2 linked regions of the Homo sapiens genome follow. The protein of the gene in region 1 purifies or fractionates together with the protein of each later gene. This does not show direct contact. Each region holds a gene or a part of one and is shown on either strand. Other genes may lie near its edges.

Region 1 (8,603 bases):
AACCCGGGAGGCGGAGCTTGCAGTGAGCCGAGATCATGCCACTGCACTCCAGCCTGGGCGACAGAGCAAGACTCCGTCTCAAAAAAAAAAAAAAAAAAGTATTTATTTAGGCCGGGTGTGGTGGCTCACGCCTGTAATTCCAGTGCTTTGGGAGGATGAGGTGGGTGGATCACCTGAGGTCAGGAGTTCGAGACCAGCCTGACCAACGTGGAGAAACCTCATCTCTACTAAAAAACAAAATTAGCCAGGCGTGGTGGCATATACCTGTAATCCCAGCTACTCAGGAGGCTGAGGCAGGAGAATCAGAACCCAGGAGGGGGAGGTTGTGGTGAGCTGAGATCGTGCCATTGCATTCCAGCCTGGGCAACAAGAGTGAAACTTCATCTCAAAAAAAAAAAAAAAAAAGTACTAATTTACAGGCTGGGCATGGTGGCTCACGCTTGGAATCCCAGCACTTTGGGAGGCTGAAGTGGACGGATTGCTTCAGCCCAGGAGTTCAAGACCAGCCTGAGCAACATAATGAGACCCTGTCTCTACAAAAAATTGAAAAAATCGTGCCAGGCATGGTGGTCTGTGCCTGCAGTCCTAGCTACTCAGGAGTCTGAAGTAGGAGAATCACTTGAGCCTGGAGTTTGAGGCTTCAGTGAGCCATGATAGATTCCAGCCTAGGCAACAAAGTGAGACCTGGTCTCAACAAAAGTATTAATTACACAAATAATGCATTGCTTATCACAAGTAAATTAGAAAATACAGATAAGGAAAAGGAAGTTGATATCTCGTGAGCTCACCAGATGGCAGTGGTCCCTGGCTCACACGTGTACTGACACATGTTTAAATAGTGGAGAACAGGTGTTTTTTTGGTTTGTTTTTTTCCCCTTCCTCATGCTACTTTGTCTAAGAGAACAGTTGGTTTTCTAGTCAGCTTTTATTACTGGACAACATTACACATACTATACCTTATCATTAATGAACTCCAGCTTGATTCTGAACCGCTGCGGGGCCTGAACGGTGGGTCAGGATTGAACCCATCCTCTATTAGAACCCAGGCGCATGTCCAGGATAGCTAGGTCCTGAGCCGTGTTCCCACAGGAGGGACTGCTGGGTTGGAGGGGACAGCCACTTCATACCCCAGGGAGGAGCTGTCCCCTTCCCACAGCTGAGTGGGGTGTGCTGACCTCAAGTTGCCATCTTGGGGTCCCATGCCCAGTCTTAGGACCACATCTGTGGAGGTGGCCAGAGCCAAGCAGTCTCCCCATCAGGTCGGCCTCCCTGTCCTGAGGCCCTGAGAAGAGGGGTCTGCAGCGGTCACATGTCAAGGGAGGAGATGAGCTGACCCTAGAACATGGGGGTCTGGACCCCAAGTCCCTGCAGAAGGTTTAGAAAGAGCAGCTCCCAGGGGCCCAAGGCCAGGAGAGGGGCAGGGCTTTTCCTAAGCAGAGGAGGGGCTATTGGCCTACCTGGGACTCTGTTCTCTTCGCTCTGCTGCTCCCCTTCCTCAAATCAGGAGGTCTTGGAAGCAGCTGCCCCTACCCACAGGCCAGAAGTTCTGGTTCTCCACCAGAGAATCAGCATTCTGTCTCCCTCCCCACTCCCTCCTCCTCTCCCCAGGGACAGTGAGGTCCCAGGCCCCACACCCATGGAACTGGAGGCCGAGCAGCTGCTTGAGCCACACGTGCAAGCGCCCAGCCTGGAGCCCTCGGTGTCCCCACAGGATGAAACAGTAAGTTGGTGGAGGGGAGGGGGTCCGTCAGGGACAATTGGGAGAGAAAAGGTGAGGGCTTCCCGGGTGGCGTGCACTGTAGAGCCCTCTAGGGACTTCCTGAACAGAAGCAGACAGAAACCACGGAGAGACGAGGTTACTTCAGACATGGGACGGTCTCTGTAGTTACAGTGGGGCATTAAGTAAGGGTGTGTGTGTTGCTGGGGATCTGAGAAGTCGATCTTTGAGCTGAGCGCTGGTGAAGGAGAAACAAGCCATGGAAGGAAAGGTGCCAAGTGGTCAGGCGAGAGCCTCCAGGGCAAAGGCCTTGGGCAGGTGGGAATCCTGATTTGTTCCTGAAAGGTAGTTTGGCTGAATCATTCCTGAGAAGGCTGGAGAGGCCAGCAGGAAACAAAACCCAGCAAGGCCTTTTGTCGTGAGGGCATTAGGGAGCTGGAGGGATTTTGAGCAGCAGAGGGACATAGGTTGTGTTAGTGTTTGAGCACCAGCCCTCTGGTCCCTGTGTAGATTTAGAGGACCAGACTCAGGGATGGGGCTGAGGGAGGTAGGGAAGGGAGGGGGCTTGGATCATTGCAGGAGCTATGGGGATTCCAGAAATGTTGAGGGGACGGAGGAGTAGGGGATAAACAAGGATTCCTAGCCTGGAACCAGTGCCCAAGTCCTGAGTCTTCCAGGAGCCACAGGCAGCCTTAAGCCTGGTCCCCATACACAGGCTGAAGTGGCAGTTCCAGCGGCTGTCCCTGCGGCAGAGGCTGAGGCCGAGGTGACGCTGCGGGAGCTCCAGGAAGCCCTGGAGGAGGAGGTGCTCACCCGGCAGAGCCTGAGCCGGGAGATGGAGGCCATCCGCACGGACAACCAGAACTTCGCCAGGTCGGGATCGGGGCCGGGGCCGGGGCCGGGATGCGGGCCGGTGGCAACCCTTGGCATCCCCTCTCGTCCGGCCCGGACGGACTCACCGTCCTTACCTCCCCACAGTCAACTACGCGAGGCAGAGGCTCGGAACCGGGACCTAGAGGCACACGTCCGGCAGTTGCAGGAGCGGATGGAGTTGCTGCAGGCAGAGGGAGCCACAGGTGAGTCCCTCATGTGTCCCCTTCCCCGGAGGACCGGGAGGAGGTGGGCCGTCTGCTCCGCGGGGCGTGTATAGACACCTGGAGGAGGGAAGGGACCCACGCTGGGGCACGCCGCGCCACCGCCCTCCTTCGCCCCTCCACGCGCCCTATGCCTCTTTCTTCTCCTTCCAGCTGTCACGGGGGTCCCCAGTCCCCGGGCCACGGATCCACCTTCCCATGTAAGACCCCTCTCTTTCCCCTGCCTCAGACCTGCTGCCCATTCTGCAGATCCCCTCCCTGGCTCCTGGTCTCCCCGTCCAGATATAGGGCTCACCCTACGTCTTTGCGACTTTAGAGGGCAGAAGCCCTTTATTCAGCCCCAGATCTCCCTCCGTTCAGGCCTCACCAGATTCCCTCCGGGATCTCCCTAGATAACCTCCCCAACCTCGATTCCCCTCGCTGTCTCTCGCCCCACCGCTGAGGGCTGGGCTGGGCTCCGATCGGGTCACCTGTCCCTTCTCTCTCCAGCTAGATGGCCCCCCGGCCGTGGCTGTGGGCCAGTGCCCGCTGGTGGGGCCAGGCCCCATGCACCGCCGCCACCTGCTGCTCCCTGCCAGGGTACGTCCGGCTGCCCACGCCCCCCTCCGCCGTCGCGCCCCGCGCTCCACCCGCCCCTTGCCACCCGCTTAGCTGCGCATTTGCGGGGCTGGGCCCACGGCAGGAGGGCGGATCTTCGGGCAGCCAATCAACACAGGCCGCTAGGAAGCAGCCAATGACGAGTTCGGACGGGATTCGAGGCGTGCGAGTGGACTAACAACAGCTGTAGGCTGTTGGGGCGGGGGCGGGGCGCAGGGAAGAGTGCGGGCCCACCTATGGGCGTAGGCGGGGCGAGTCCCAGGAGCCAATCAGAGGCCCATGCCGGGTGTTGACCTCGCCCTCTCCCCGCAGGTCCCTAGGCCTGGCCTATCGGAGGCGCTTTCCCTGCTCCTGTTCGCCGTTGTTCTGTCTCGTGCCGCCGCCCTGGGCTGCATTGGGTTGGTGGCCCACGCCGGCCAACTCACCGCAGTCTGGCGCCGCCCAGGAGCCGCCCGCGCTCCCTGAACCCTAGAACTGTCTTCGACTCCGGGGCCCCGTTGGAAGACTGAGTGCCCGGGGCACGGCACAGAAGCCGCGCCCACCGCCTGCCAGTTCACAACCGCTCCGAGCGTGGGTCTCCGCCCAGCTCCAGTCCTGTGATCCGGGCCCGCCCCCTAGCGGCCGGGGAGGGAGGGGCCGGGTCCGCGGCCGGCGAACGGGGCTCGAAGGGTCCTTGTAGCCGGGAATGCTGCTGCTGCTGCTGCTGCTGCTGCTGCTGCTGCTGCTGCTGCTGCTGCTGCTGCTGCTGGGGGGATCACAGACCATTTCTTTCTTTCGGCCAGGCTGAGGCCCTGACGTGGATGGGCAAACTGCAGGCCTGGGAAGGCAGCAAGCCGGGCCGTCCGTGTTCCATCCTCCACGCACCCCCACCTATCGTTGGTTCGCAAAGTGCAAAGCTTTCTTGTGCATGACGCCCTGCTCTGGGGAGCGTCTGGCGCGATCTCTGCCTGCTTACTCGGGAAATTTGCTTTTGCCAAACCCGCTTTTTCGGGGATCCCGCGCCCCCCTCCTCACTTGCGCTGCTCTCGGAGCCCCAGCCGGCTCCGCCCGCTTCGGCGGTTTGGATATTTATTGACCTCGTCCTCCGACTCGCTGACAGGCTACAGGACCCCCAACAACCCCAATCCACGTTTTGGATGCACTGAGACCCCGACATTCCTCGGTATTTATTGTCTGTCCCCACCTAGGACCCCCACCCCCGACCCTCGCGAATAAAAGGCCCTCCATCTGCCCAAAGCTCTGGACTCCACAGTGTCCGCGGTTTGCGTTGTGGGCCGGAGGCTCCGCAGCGGGCCAATCCGGAGGCGTGTGGAGGCGGCCGAAGGTCTGGGAGGAGCTAGCGGGATGCGAAGCGGCCGAATCAGGGTTGGGGGAGGAAAAGCCACGGGGCGGGGCTTTGGCGTCCGGCCAATAGGAGGGCGAGCGGGCCACCCGGAGGCACCGCCCCCGCCCAGCTGTGGCCCAGCTGTGCCACCGAGCGTCGAGAAGAGGGGGCTGGGCTGGCAGCGCGCGCGGCCATCCTCCTTCCACTGCGCCTGCGCACGCCACGCGCATCCGCTCCTGGGACGCAAGCTCGAGAAAAGTTGCTGCAAACTTTCTAGCCCGTTCCCCGCCCCTCCTCCCGGCCAGACCCGCCCCCCCTGCGGAGCCGGGAATTCCGAGGGGCGGAGCGCAGGCCGAGATGGGGAATGTGGGGGCCTGCAGAGGACCCTGGAGACGGAGGCGTGCAGAAGCTCAGTCTCGGGGCGGAGGCTTCGCGCCCTTAGTCCTCCTGGACGGCCCGTTACCTTCTGCGTTGTCCCGATGGGGAAACTGAGGCCCTGAGCCAGAAGCACACGCTGGGGGGAGGCAGAAAGCGCGGCCAGAGGCGGAGGGAAAACAAAGGGAGAATCACAGACAGACGGGAGGGGGACGGACACACACAAGGGGACAGAGACCCGAGTGGAGAGCTGGATCTCGCCTTCCCGGCGTGGGGCGCAGGGTCGGCCAGAAAGAAGATCGAGAAGAGCGGGGAGTGGGGGCGAAAAGGGGGGACAGGTGGGGGAGGAGGCTGGGGAAAGCCCGAGGGAGGAAGAGAGGGAGGGAGGAACTTCCCAAAGTTGCAAAACATGGCTACCTTGCCTGCGGAGCCGAGCGCGGGGCCGGCGGCTGGGGGGGAGGCGGTGGCGGCGGCGGCGGCGACCGAAGAGGAGGAGGAGGAAGCGCGCCAGCTCTTGCAGACTTTGCAGGCGGCCGAGGGTGAGGCGGCGGCGGCGGCCGGGGCCGGGGCGGGCGCAGCGGCTGCGGGAGCTGAGGGCCCGGGATCCCCGGGCGTCCCCGGGTCGCCCCCCGAGGCCGCTTCCGAACCGCCCACGGGCCTCCGCTTCTCGCCCGAGCAGGTGGCGTGCGTCTGCGAGGCGCTGCTCCAGGCGGGCCACGCCGGCCGCTTGAGCCGCTTCCTGGGCGCACTGCCCCCGGCCGAGCGCCTACGTGGCAGCGACCCGGTGTTGCGCGCGCGGGCCCTGGTGGCCTTCCAGCGGGGCGAGTACGCCGAGCTCTACCGGCTACTCGAGAGCCGCCCCTTCCCCGCCGCCCACCACGCCTTCCTGCAGGACCTCTACCTGCGCGCGCGCTACCATGAGGCCGAGCGGGCCCGCGGCCGCGCGCTTGGCGCAGTGGACAAGTATCGACTGCGCAAGAAGTTCCCGCTGCCCAAGACCATCTGGGACGGCGAGGAGACAGTCTACTGCTTCAAGGAGCGCTCCCGCGCAGCGCTCAAGGCCTGCTACCGCGGCAACCGCTACCCCACGCCGGACGAGAAGCGCCGCCTGGCCACACTCACCGGCCTGTCGCTCACGCAGGTCAGCAACTGGTTCAAGAACCGGCGACAGCGCGACCGGACCGGGGCCGGAGGCGGCGCGCCCTGCAAGAGGTGAGGGGCCTCGGGCGGCGCAAGTCCAGCTCTCCCGGGGACATCCCGTCCACCAGCCCTCTTCCCCCGTGCCCACTGCTGGGGCCGGCGCGCCGAGGTCCTCGGACATCTCCCGGGACCAGCTCACAATCTCAGGCGCCCGCGGGGCGCGGGGACTAAGTGTGGACGGGACAGGCACCCGCCCGGGCCCTCTCCCCGCACGCGTCTCCTCTTCCAGCGGCTCCATTCCGAGCTCCTTCCCAAATCCCATCGGTGTTGGGGAATCACACTGCGGGGGGCACTAGAGGGACTGAGGAAAAAGGACAGGGCCTGTGGCCACTCCACTCCGCGTAGGGGCTGCCTCCCAGCCCCCTTTCTTCACTGACCGTTACTCTTACCCACCCGCCCCCACACTCCCTCCGGGCCCGGACGGCGTGGTCCGTCTTCTGCCTTTGTTGTGAAACGTGAACCTTTCCCAGCTCCGGTTTCCCTGTAACCCAAACCCTTCTCCTCCCACCCTGAGCGCCGGCCTCTCCCTTCTCTGACGCCCCGCGGGGAGGGCACCGGGAACTGGGCTGGCGGCTGCTGCTCCCTCTCTCCAGGCCACTCGCCCGCTTTCCGCCCAACCAAGGAACTTTTAGGGCAACCTGGGAGCTCAGCCTCTGGGGACCCGAGGCCGAGGTGGGGGAGAGCAAGGGCCTCTTCCCTCCCCAGCGCTTCTCTGCAGTGGTGTCCACGCAGGGCTTGCAAAAGGCCCTGGAGTTTGGAGTGGTCTCAGAGAGGCGTCATAACCCCTGGAATGATCCACCGAAACTTGGGCCAGGGAAAGGTGGGGGAGCAGCTGGCTGGCTATGCGGGAGGCCCCACAGGCTAAGGGACCCCAGCTGACAGCCATTTCTCCGGCCAGCGAGTCTGATGGGAATCCCACGACTGAGGACGAGTCCAGCCGAAGTCCTGAGGACCTGGAGAGAGGGGCGGCCCCAGTGTCCGCCGAGGCCGCTGCCCAGGGCTCCATATTCCTGGCAGGGACCGGCCCTCCCGCGCCTTGCCCGGCTTCCTCCTCCATCCTGGTGAACGGGAGCTTCCTGGCAGCCAGCGGCTCCCCAGCAGTGCTCCTCAACGGGGGCCCCGTCATCATCAACGGCCTGGCCCTGGGCGAGGCCTCCAGCCTGGGCCCGCTGCTGCTCACTGGGGGCGGGGGTGCCCCTCCACCGCAGCCCAGCCCTCAGGGGGCCAGCGAGACCAAGACCTCTCTGGTCCTGGACCCTCAGACAGGGGAGGTGCGGCTGGAGGAGGCTCAGTCGGAGGCCCCTGAGACCAAAGGGGCCCAGGTGGCTGCTCCGGGACCAGCCCTTGGAGAGGAGGTCCTGGGGCCCCTGGCCCAAGTGGTGCCTGGCCCCCCGACGGCTGCCACCTTTCCTCTGCCCCCGGGGCCAGTGCCTGCTGTGGCTGCCCCACAAGTGGTACCGCTCTCCCCACCCCCGGGGTATCCCACGGGCCTGAGCCCCACCTCCCCACTATTGAACCTGCCCCAGGTAGTACCCACCTCACAGGTGGTGACCCTGCCCCAGGCTGTGGGGCCCCTGCAGCTGTTGGCAGCCGGGCCAGGCAGCCCTGTGAAGGTGGCAGCTGCAGCAGGCCCTGCCAATGTGCACCTCATCAACTCCGGGGTGGGCGTGACTGCCCTGCAGCTGCCTTCGGCCACTGCCCCAGGTACCCCCATCTCCCTCCCTCAGGCCTAGGTGAGAGCCGGGGAGGGGTGCAGTCATCTCGGAGAGGGAGGGGCTGTCCCTGGGCTCCTGGAGGGCATCTCATCCCTGGCAAGTCCCAGTGCCCCAAGGCCCACCACAAGGCTCCCTCCGCCCGCCCTCCAGCTGCACAGTCTCCACTTCTCTCTGGCTTGGCCTGCTCTCCTGGCTCTCACCTGCGCTCGGTCCCTCTCTCCCCACAGGAAACTTCCTCCTGGCCAACCCTGTGTCTGGCAGCCCCATCGTGACGGGTGTGGCCCTGCAGCAGGGCAAGATCATCCTCACCGCCACCTTCCCCACCAGCATGCTCGTCTCCCAGGTCCTGCCGCCAGCCCCCGGCCTGGCCCTGCCACTGAAGCCAGAGACGGCCATCTCCGTGCCTGAGGGAGGCCTCCCGGTGGCCCCCAGCCCTGCTCTCCCAGAGGCTCACGCCCTAGGCACCCTTTCTGCACAGCAGCCACCCCCCGCCGCTGCCACCACCTCCAGCACCAGCCTGCCCTTCTCCCCTGACTCCCCTGGCCTCCTGCCCAACTTCCCGGCGCCCCCACCAGAGGGGC
Region 2 (8,518 bases), on another chromosome or scaffold:
CCGAGGCAGGCAGATTGCTTGAGTCCAGGAGTTTGAGATCAGCCTGGGCAACATGGTGAAACTCTGCCTCTCCAAAAAAATTTCAAAATTAGCCAGGTATGGTGGCATGAACCTGTAGTCCCAGCTATTCTGGAGGCTGTGGGAGGATGACTTCAGCCCAGGAGGTCAGGGCTGCAGTGAGCCGAGATCGTGCCACTGCACTACAGCCTGGCCAACAGAGCAAGGTTTTGTTTTGTTTTTTGTCTCAAAAAAACAAACAAACAAACAAAAAACTACATCTCCGTAAACACAGGATTCAAGGACCAAAAAACAAACAAACAAAACAAGTAAGACAAAGTACATTAGCAAATAAAATGACAAAAAAGAACCAAAAATAATCAAACCAAACCAAAATAAGAAAACTTGGTAAGCCTAAAACTAATATGCAGAAACATATTTTAAATTGAGCCCTTAGGGCTACCAACTAAAGTAGAAATTTTTGTAGAAAATCAACGGTAATTTTTTTTCCTGAGCTTTAAAAACAAACACACATTAAGCTGTCTCTGGGTTTGTTTGTTTGTTTGTTTGTTTGTTTTGGTTTGGCAGCTAGGTGGAGGGTCAGGCTTGAAGATCAGCAGCATGGAACACAACTGCTCCAATGACTACACAGGATGCTCATTTCATTTAATGGCTTCAATGCAGAATATACAGGCCAAAGTCATTTTAGAAGAACAAAAGACTCCTAAAACTTTTCAACTTCTACTTCTGCACAAAACAGTTTCTTTCTCTAGTCACTCTTTGAAGGCAAAATGACTTCGGCTTTGGATTTTAAAATCCATGTCACAGATTTCTTATCCTAATAGTCTCATTCATATATGACATATACTGAAATGACCCACTAAATACTATATTGTGCTTTCCAGCCTACAGCTTTAATGGAATTAACACTCGCTACTCTTGAGAGCATGTATAGGACTTCTTGACTTAAAAAAAAATGACCTTGGAAATTAACTGTTTAAGTTGTAATTTCTTTTTTTTTTTTAAGAGAGTCTCACTCTGTTGCCTTGTGGAGCGCAGTGATGTGATCACAGCTCACTGTAACCTCAAAATCTTGGGCTCAAGCAATCCTCCAACCTCAACCTCCTGAGTAGTTGGGACTACAGGCGCACACCACTACACCAAGCTAATTTTGTCTATGTTGCCCAGGTTGGTCTCGAACTCCTGGCCAATCCTCTGGCCTTGGCCTTCCAAAGTGCTGGGGATTATAGGTGTGAACCACCATGCCAGACCTAAACCCTAATTTCTTTATGTTTTGTAAATAAGAGTGCCACTTCTTACTAGTGACAATGGTATATAATCTTTATAACTAGATTTTATTATTTTCTATTGTTTTGAAGACAGAGTGATTTCCCATCATTTTTGGGGTTTAATGTTCTTATCTTAATCTGCATTAATTAAGCTGGCATTCCCATGGCTTAAATGAAGCCCACAAACCTGAAGGTAAGGAAGCAGCTGGAGTAAGCCATACACATTGGGGTTTGTTTTGAAGGATGGAAAATAGGCCAGGTTGGACAGAAGCTAGAGCTAGGTAGTGGGGAGGAGGTACACATAAGAAACTTTCAAAGAGGCTTCACTTAGCAGTTAGATAAGTCCTGAAAGCCAATCAGAAGGGTCCTTCTCCGTGGCTTCTAGGACTAACATGGCCAAGCTCCAAAGTCCTTTGCTAAAAACAGCTGAAGAGAGCCCAATTTTGGAATAAGCCAAGGACTATACACTCTTATATGTATATGTATCATATAATGAAGATTTTTCTATAGCTAATTAGCCAAAAGATAAGCAGGTGCTCAAAGCTGTATTTAAGTTCATACTGAAGTACTACATTTTAAAGCACAATTTATAGATTACAGAAACTGATGACACAAAAACCGCTGCAATCAAGTGCTAGATATACACTATAAACATCGGGAAAAAATAAAGATTACCCAAGCCTATACTCTAGATCACAAAATTTGGGAAAGGGAGCACTAACCATTATTAAATGCAATTCCTTCATGTTATAAATGACTTTAAACCTCTAGGGAAATTTAAGAAAGGTGCCCTAAATCTCAAAATGAGAAAATGATAGTTTTACTACAAAGGTGGAAATGGTAAGGAAAAAAAAATACAAAAGTTAGAAGAATATTCTAAGTAATGTACTTCTAAGTAATGTAATTCTAAGTAAAGTCTGGCTAATGAAGGAAGAGGAAGACAAATAGAAAACTTAATACAGTAAAAATGAAAAAATGCATATGTGCATACTAAGTTTAAAGATTACTTTGAAATTACTATAGTGAACTCTTCAGCAGACCACTTTTCGGAAACAACACAATAAATTCATAAATCTGGGGCTAATGATCTCTCCACAAATTCTGTCCTCTATCATCACAAGTGTCCTGTAAGAAGCGTCCATGCCGAAAACAGAGCTGAACGTCCCAAAATATTGGCGTTTTTGCCTCAGCTGTGCACATCCATTCTCATGGGAACACAAAACTGACAGAACTTCTTCATGACTTGTCAATTAACAAGATCGCGCCAGCCCAACTGCTAGCAGTACCGTGTGCCTGCCACCTGTTAGCTGCTCTTGAGAGAGCCCCAAAACTGAGGTAAAGCGAAGAACTAGGAACGCCTTTGTTGTACCCTAACTATGGAAGCTACCAGAGTTCAGTCTAACCCGGCGCCTTAAGGCAAAACTTCCCCCAGGCTGGGGAAGTCTTCCCATTTCGGGGCTTTGGCAAAGCTCTCCTCTAGCTAAGGACAGGCAGAAGAACCCCAGGAGAAGCACTGTCACCTACTGGTCCCAGGAGGAAGGATCAAAGCTGAAGAAAGTTGGGGGACAAGGAACTAGGACCCTAGGGAGAGGCTCAGTTTCTCGTGGTGAAGAGTGAGCACAATGAGAAGCTGGGCCGTCTCGCTAGGTGAAAGAACGCTGAGATCCCAGATCAGGGGTAGGGGAAAAGAGGTTCTAAAAGAAGGGAGGAGGAGAAAAAAGGAGAGGCAGTGGCTGAGAGAAGCGCTGAGGCGTAAGGCAAGAAACCGAGGTTGGAAAAGGACTGATGAGGCTGAGGAAAAACAGCGAGGCGACAGAGGCACGGAAGCGCGAGAAGGCTAAGCTGAGGTGAATAAGGCGAGGCCAGCGTGAAGGAAAGGGCTGAGGTGAGTGAAGCACTGCAGTGACAAGGGACAGGCGAAGAGACTCCCACCCACAAGGACCGAGGCAGAACTCTAGACCCATCCCCCTTCACGCTGTGCTCGCCCGGCTGCGCTCAGACCCTGTTGGCAGCTGAGACTCACCCAAAGGCTGTAAAAGCCCCACAACAGGACATGGAGATCAGTCCAGACCCACAGTAGAACCAATCGAGCGGAGGAAACCGCGGCGTTAGCGTGACCCGGATGCGCATCGCTAGGAACCGGAAGTAAGCGGCCAGAGTCACCTCACAATCCACACCTCGTTCCACTAGAAACCTCTGGGCGCATGTGTTGAGTCTGACCGGGCGGGGAAGCTTTTAGGCTCCGCCCACTCCGCCGGCCCGGCGAGCCACGCCCATGGCCACGCCCCTCTTAGTGCCTCGGAGACAAGCAGCTTCTGGGTGAGCGCTAGGCAGTCCTGACGGTACTACAGCCTTCACTTTTAAGGAGGTCTTTAAAAATGCGCGTAATCCCTACCTGGCTAAAAGGAACGTAAGAAGTGTTGGGTGCATTTGGTAGATTTAGAAAAACTGGGAAGGAGAATGAGTGGGAAGTTTTGGAAGACATTTGGGAGGCTAGCCCAAGGTGATCTTTTTTTTTTTTTTTTTTTGAGACGGAGTTTCGCTCTTGTTGCCCAGGCTGGAGTGCAATGGCGCGATCTCGGCTCACTGCAACCTCCGCCTCCCGGGTTCAAGCGATCCTCCTGCCTCAGCCTTTCGAGTAGCTGGGATTACAGGCATGTGCCACCACGCCCGGCTAATTTTGTAGTTTTAGTAGAGACGGGGTTTCTCCATGTTGGTCAGGCTGGTCTTGAACTCCCGACCTCAGGTGATCCGCCCGCCTGGGCCTCCCAAAGTGCTGAGATTACAGGCGTGAGCCACCGCGCCCATCCCTTTTTTTTTTTCTTTTTTTGAGACAGAGTCTTGCTCTGTCGCCCAGGCTGGAGTGCAGTGGCGCGATCTCGGCTCACTGCAACCCCCGCCTCCTGGGTTCAAGTGATCCTCCCACCTCAGCCTCCCGAGTAGCTAAGACTACCGGCGCGCACCACCACGCCCGGCTAATTTTTGTATTTTTCGGTAGAGACGGGGTTTCGCCATGTTGCCCAGGCTGGTCTCCAACTCTGGAGCTCGGTTGATCCCTTGGCCTCCCAAAGTGCTGGGATTACAGGCGTGAGCCCCAAGGTGATCTTTTTATCCCCAAATTTAGTTTATTCTTAATATTATATTAGGCTTACAATTCACTTCGTGCACACTGTTTTCGGAAGCAAAATTCTTAAATGTTTCGTTAATTTTAAATTACAACCCAAGTATGGGCTAGAAGCAAGGTTGAATTCAGGCTTTGTGGAGACTTGACGTTTATTCAATTTGGGGGCCCTCTTTAAAATAATCAAGGCCAGGCACAGTGGCTCATGCCTGAAATCCTAGCACTTTGGGACGCCGAGGTCGACCGGTTGCTTGAGCCCCGGAGTTGGAGATCACCTGGGCAACAAAATTAGACCCTGTCTCTACAAAACAAACAAAGCAAAACAACAACAAAAAAAACCCAGAAAAATTAGCCAGGTGTGGTGGCACGCACCTAACTGAGCCCAGGAGGTAGAGGCTGCGGTGAGTTATGATTATGCCACTGCACTCCAGCCTGGGCAACAGAGCGAGACTGTCTAAAAAAAAAAAAAATCCAAAATTACAAATACAATATTAGATATAAAAGTGAACCTTTTATAATGAGAAAAATTACAAACATTTTTATTAGCTCACAAATACCACGAATAACAAAATCCAGAAAAAAAACTATTTTTTCTACATTTTTTGACTGTATATTTGATCACCTCTTCCGATGACAACAATGTACTAAGCAACATCATTTACTAAGATCCTTAACTCCTCTCTCATATCCCACATGTACTCCATCAGCAAGTTCTGCAAGATTTGCCTTCAAAATCTGTCCAGAACCTGACCATTTACTGCCTCCGTTGGTATAAACCAGTCAGTCAGTGACTGTGAGTGCCCTATTTATACTCTTGCCTTCCCACAATCTTTTTTTTTTTTTTTTTTTCAGACAGAGCCTCCCTCTGTCACCCAGGCTGGAGTGTACTGGCCTGATCTTGGCTCAGTGCAACCTCTGCCTCCTGGGTTCTCCTGCCTCAGCCTCCTGAATAGCTGGGATTACAGGGGCCCGCCAGCACGCGCGGCTAATTGTTATATTTTTAGTAGAGACGGGGTTTTGCCATGTTGGCCAGACTGGTCTTGAACTCCTGGCCTCAAGTGATCCACCCGCCTCAGCCTCCCAAAGTGCTGGGATTACAGGTGTGAGCCTCCACGCCCGGCCCCCACAATCTATTAATATAGTAGCAATGGGCTCCTGTTAAAACCCTAATTAGATCATATCCTTCCTCCAATGCATTCCTATTTCAGAGTAAAAACCAAAATCCTTACATTGGTCTACAGGACCCTCAAGATTTGACACCTCCAGTACAGCTCTGCTCTAACCTCAACTCCTACTCCTTCTGTCATCCTTCCCCTTAAAGCACATTGGCCTCTGCCATTCCTCAAAACTACAGGTAGGCCCAGGGCCTTTGTGCTTTTTAATCCATCTGCCTGGAGTGCTCTTCCCCCAGATACCTGCATCATTCATCCGCTCACCTCATTTACATCTTTATTCACATGTCACTTTCTCAATGAGATCTTCCCTGACACTACATTAAAAATTGGAACACTACCATCCTCTTTGTACTTTCCCATCCAACAAGTTGCTTGTAAATTTGGCTTAGTGTCTCTCTCCCCCTGCCAGAATGTAAGTTCCATGAGTCCATGGATGTTTGTCCGATTTGTTCACGGATGTTTTTTCAGCACCAGAATGGAGCCTGGCACACTGTAGGCACTCAGTAAATGTTTGTTGAATGAAGGGCTAAATTGCTCATTTACTTTGGTTTTCCTGATCTGAAACCCTGCAAACTGAGCCACCACCTCCACCAGAGGGAGCCCATGAGTAATCAATGCAATAGCTCCAGAAAAGTTATGCCTAAAGCATTTACATACATATACACTCTGTTTAAGGACAGGAATATGTTCTGAGAAATCCCTCGTTAGGTAGTTTCATCATTGTGCGAACATCGTAAAATGGACTTATACACACCTAAGCTATATGGTATAACCTATTGCTCCTAGGCTATAAATCTGTATAGCATATGACTGTACTGAATACTGTAGGCAATTGTAACACAATGGCAAGTATTTGTGTATTTAAACATATAAAAACATAGAAAAGGTACAGTAAAAATATTAAATAATCTTATGGGACCACCATCATATATGCATTCTATCATTTACCAAAATATCATTATGTGACAGCTATGATTCTAAAACAGAGCTACAAGAAAGCATGCAAATTCCTCCCCAGAGCAGAAGCTGTACCTTGCTGGTGCTCTAGTGTCTTTACAGTCATTTAAGAATAAAATCCAGGCTGGGCGTGGTGGCTCACGCCTATAATCCCAGCACTTTGGGAGGCCGAGGCAGGTGGATCATGATGTCAAGAGATCGAGACCATCCTGGCCAACATGGTGAAACCCCGTCTCTACTAAAAATACAAAAATTAGCTGGGCATGGTGGCATGTGCCTGTAATCCCAGCTTCTCGAGAGGCTGAGGCAAGAGAATTGCTTGAACCAGGACCTGGGAGACGGAGGTTGCAGTGAGCTGAGATCGTGCCACTGCACTCCAGCCTGAGCTACAGAGTGAGACTCTGTCTCAAAAATAATAATAATAATAATAATAATAATAATAATAAAATCCAAAGGCCGGGCACGGTGGCTCCCATCTGTAATCCTAGCACTTTGGGAGGCCGAGGCAGGCAGATCACCTGAGGTCAGGAGTTCAAGATCAGCCTGGCCAATATGGTGAAACCTCATCTCTACAAAACATACAAAAATTAGCCAGGTGTGGTGGCAGGCACCTGTAGTCCCAGCTACTTAGCAGGCTGAGGCATGAGAATCACAGGAGGCAGAGCGTGCAGTAAGCCGAGATGGCACCACTGCACTCCAGCCTGGGTGACAGAGTGAGAGACTCCATCTCGAAAAATAAACAAATATATAAAATAAAATAAAATAATAAAAATAAGACCTCTAATTTATATATTTCCATTTTGAAAAGACATGATGAATGTATGATCAGTGTTTTATAATAGCTATTAATTTAAACCCTCCTGATTGACATATATGAAGTACAATGGTCTGGATTTTATTTCTGTTGATGTTCTATATTGTACTTGAGGCAATTTCTTATGATATACATGATCGTTGACCTTCTAAAAGCAATCAGTAGTTGGTAGGATTGTAAAATGGTGCAACCTTATGGAAAGCCATATGGTGGTTCCTGAAAAAAATTGAAAATAGAACTAACGTATGATCCAGGAATCCCCTTCTGGGTATATATCCCTAAGAATTGAAAGCAGGATCTCCAAGAGATATTTGCACACCCATGTTCATGACAGCACTATTCACAATAGCTAAGAGATGGAAGCAACCCAAATGTTCATTGATGGATGAATGTATAAACAAATTTGGTATACATACAATGGAATACTATGCAACCTTAAAAAGGCAGGAAATTCTGTCTGGGTGCAGTGGCTCATGCCTGTAATCCCAGCACTTTGGGATGCTGAGGCGGGTGGATCACGAGGTCAAGAGATCGAGACCATCCTGGCCAACATGGTGAAACCTTGTTTCTATTAAAAATACAAAAATTAGCTGGGCATGGTGGTGTGCGCCTGTAGTCCCAGCTACTCAGGAGGCTGAGGTAGGAGAATCGATTGAACCCAGGAGGCGGAGGTTGCAGTGAGCTGGGATCACACCATTGCACTCCAGCCTGGTGACAGAGCAAGACTCCACCAAAAAAAAAAAGAGCATGTACACATGCTACAACATGAATAAATCTTGAGGACATTATGCTAAATGAAATAAGCCACTCACAAAAGGACAAATACCATATGATTCCACTGATATGAGTTATATAAATTAGTCAAATTCATAGATATGGAAAGTAGAATGGTGGATATAAAGGGTTGGGGAGAAAGGACAAAAGGGAGTTTCTTTAATGAGTATAGAGTTTCAGTTCTCCAAGATGAAAAGGTTGAGATCTGTTTCATAGAAAGCAAATATACTTAACACTACTAAACTGTATAATTAAAAATGGTTAAGTTGGTAAATTTTATGATATGTGTTTTTACCACAAATAAATAGATTAATAATGTTTAAAATCTGTAGGAATCTAGTCATCACTGTAAAAAAGACATGGGTCACTTTTGCCTACTTGACCCTGCATG

The links.
Region 2: the proteins of SIX5 (region 1) and EYA3 purify together in Homo sapiens (affinity purification with western blotting; 2 studies listed by BioGRID and IntAct, with this or other methods). This does not show direct contact.

What each region holds. Positions count from the first base shown.
Region 1 is NC_000019.10:45,765,758-45,774,360, reverse strand, and holds the start of SIX5 (homeobox protein SIX5), read left to right. Parts: upstream 1-5,108; 5' UTR 5,109-5,516; coding exon 5,517-6,319; exon of another isoform or gene 6,320-6,565; intron 6,566-7,205; coding exon 7,206-8,011; intron 8,012-8,249; coding exon 8,250-8,603. Other genes in the region: DMPK (myotonin-protein kinase), read left to right, coding at 1,609-1,720, 2,433-2,590, 2,696-2,793, 2,965-3,011, 3,305-3,390, 3,721-3,880. UniProt on the Homo sapiens protein: Transcription factor that is thought to be involved in regulation of organogenesis. May be involved in determination and maintenance of retina formation. Binds a 5'-GGTGTCAG-3' motif present in the ARE regulatory element of ATP1A1.
Region 2 is NC_000001.11:28,085,215-28,093,732, forward strand, and holds the start of EYA3 (protein phosphatase EYA3), read right to left. Parts: upstream 3,397-8,518; 5' UTR 3,310-3,396; intron 1-3,309. UniProt on the Homo sapiens protein: Tyrosine phosphatase that specifically dephosphorylates 'Tyr-142' of histone H2AX (H2AXY142ph). 'Tyr-142' phosphorylation of histone H2AX plays a central role in DNA repair and acts as a mark that distinguishes between apoptotic and repair responses to genotoxic stress.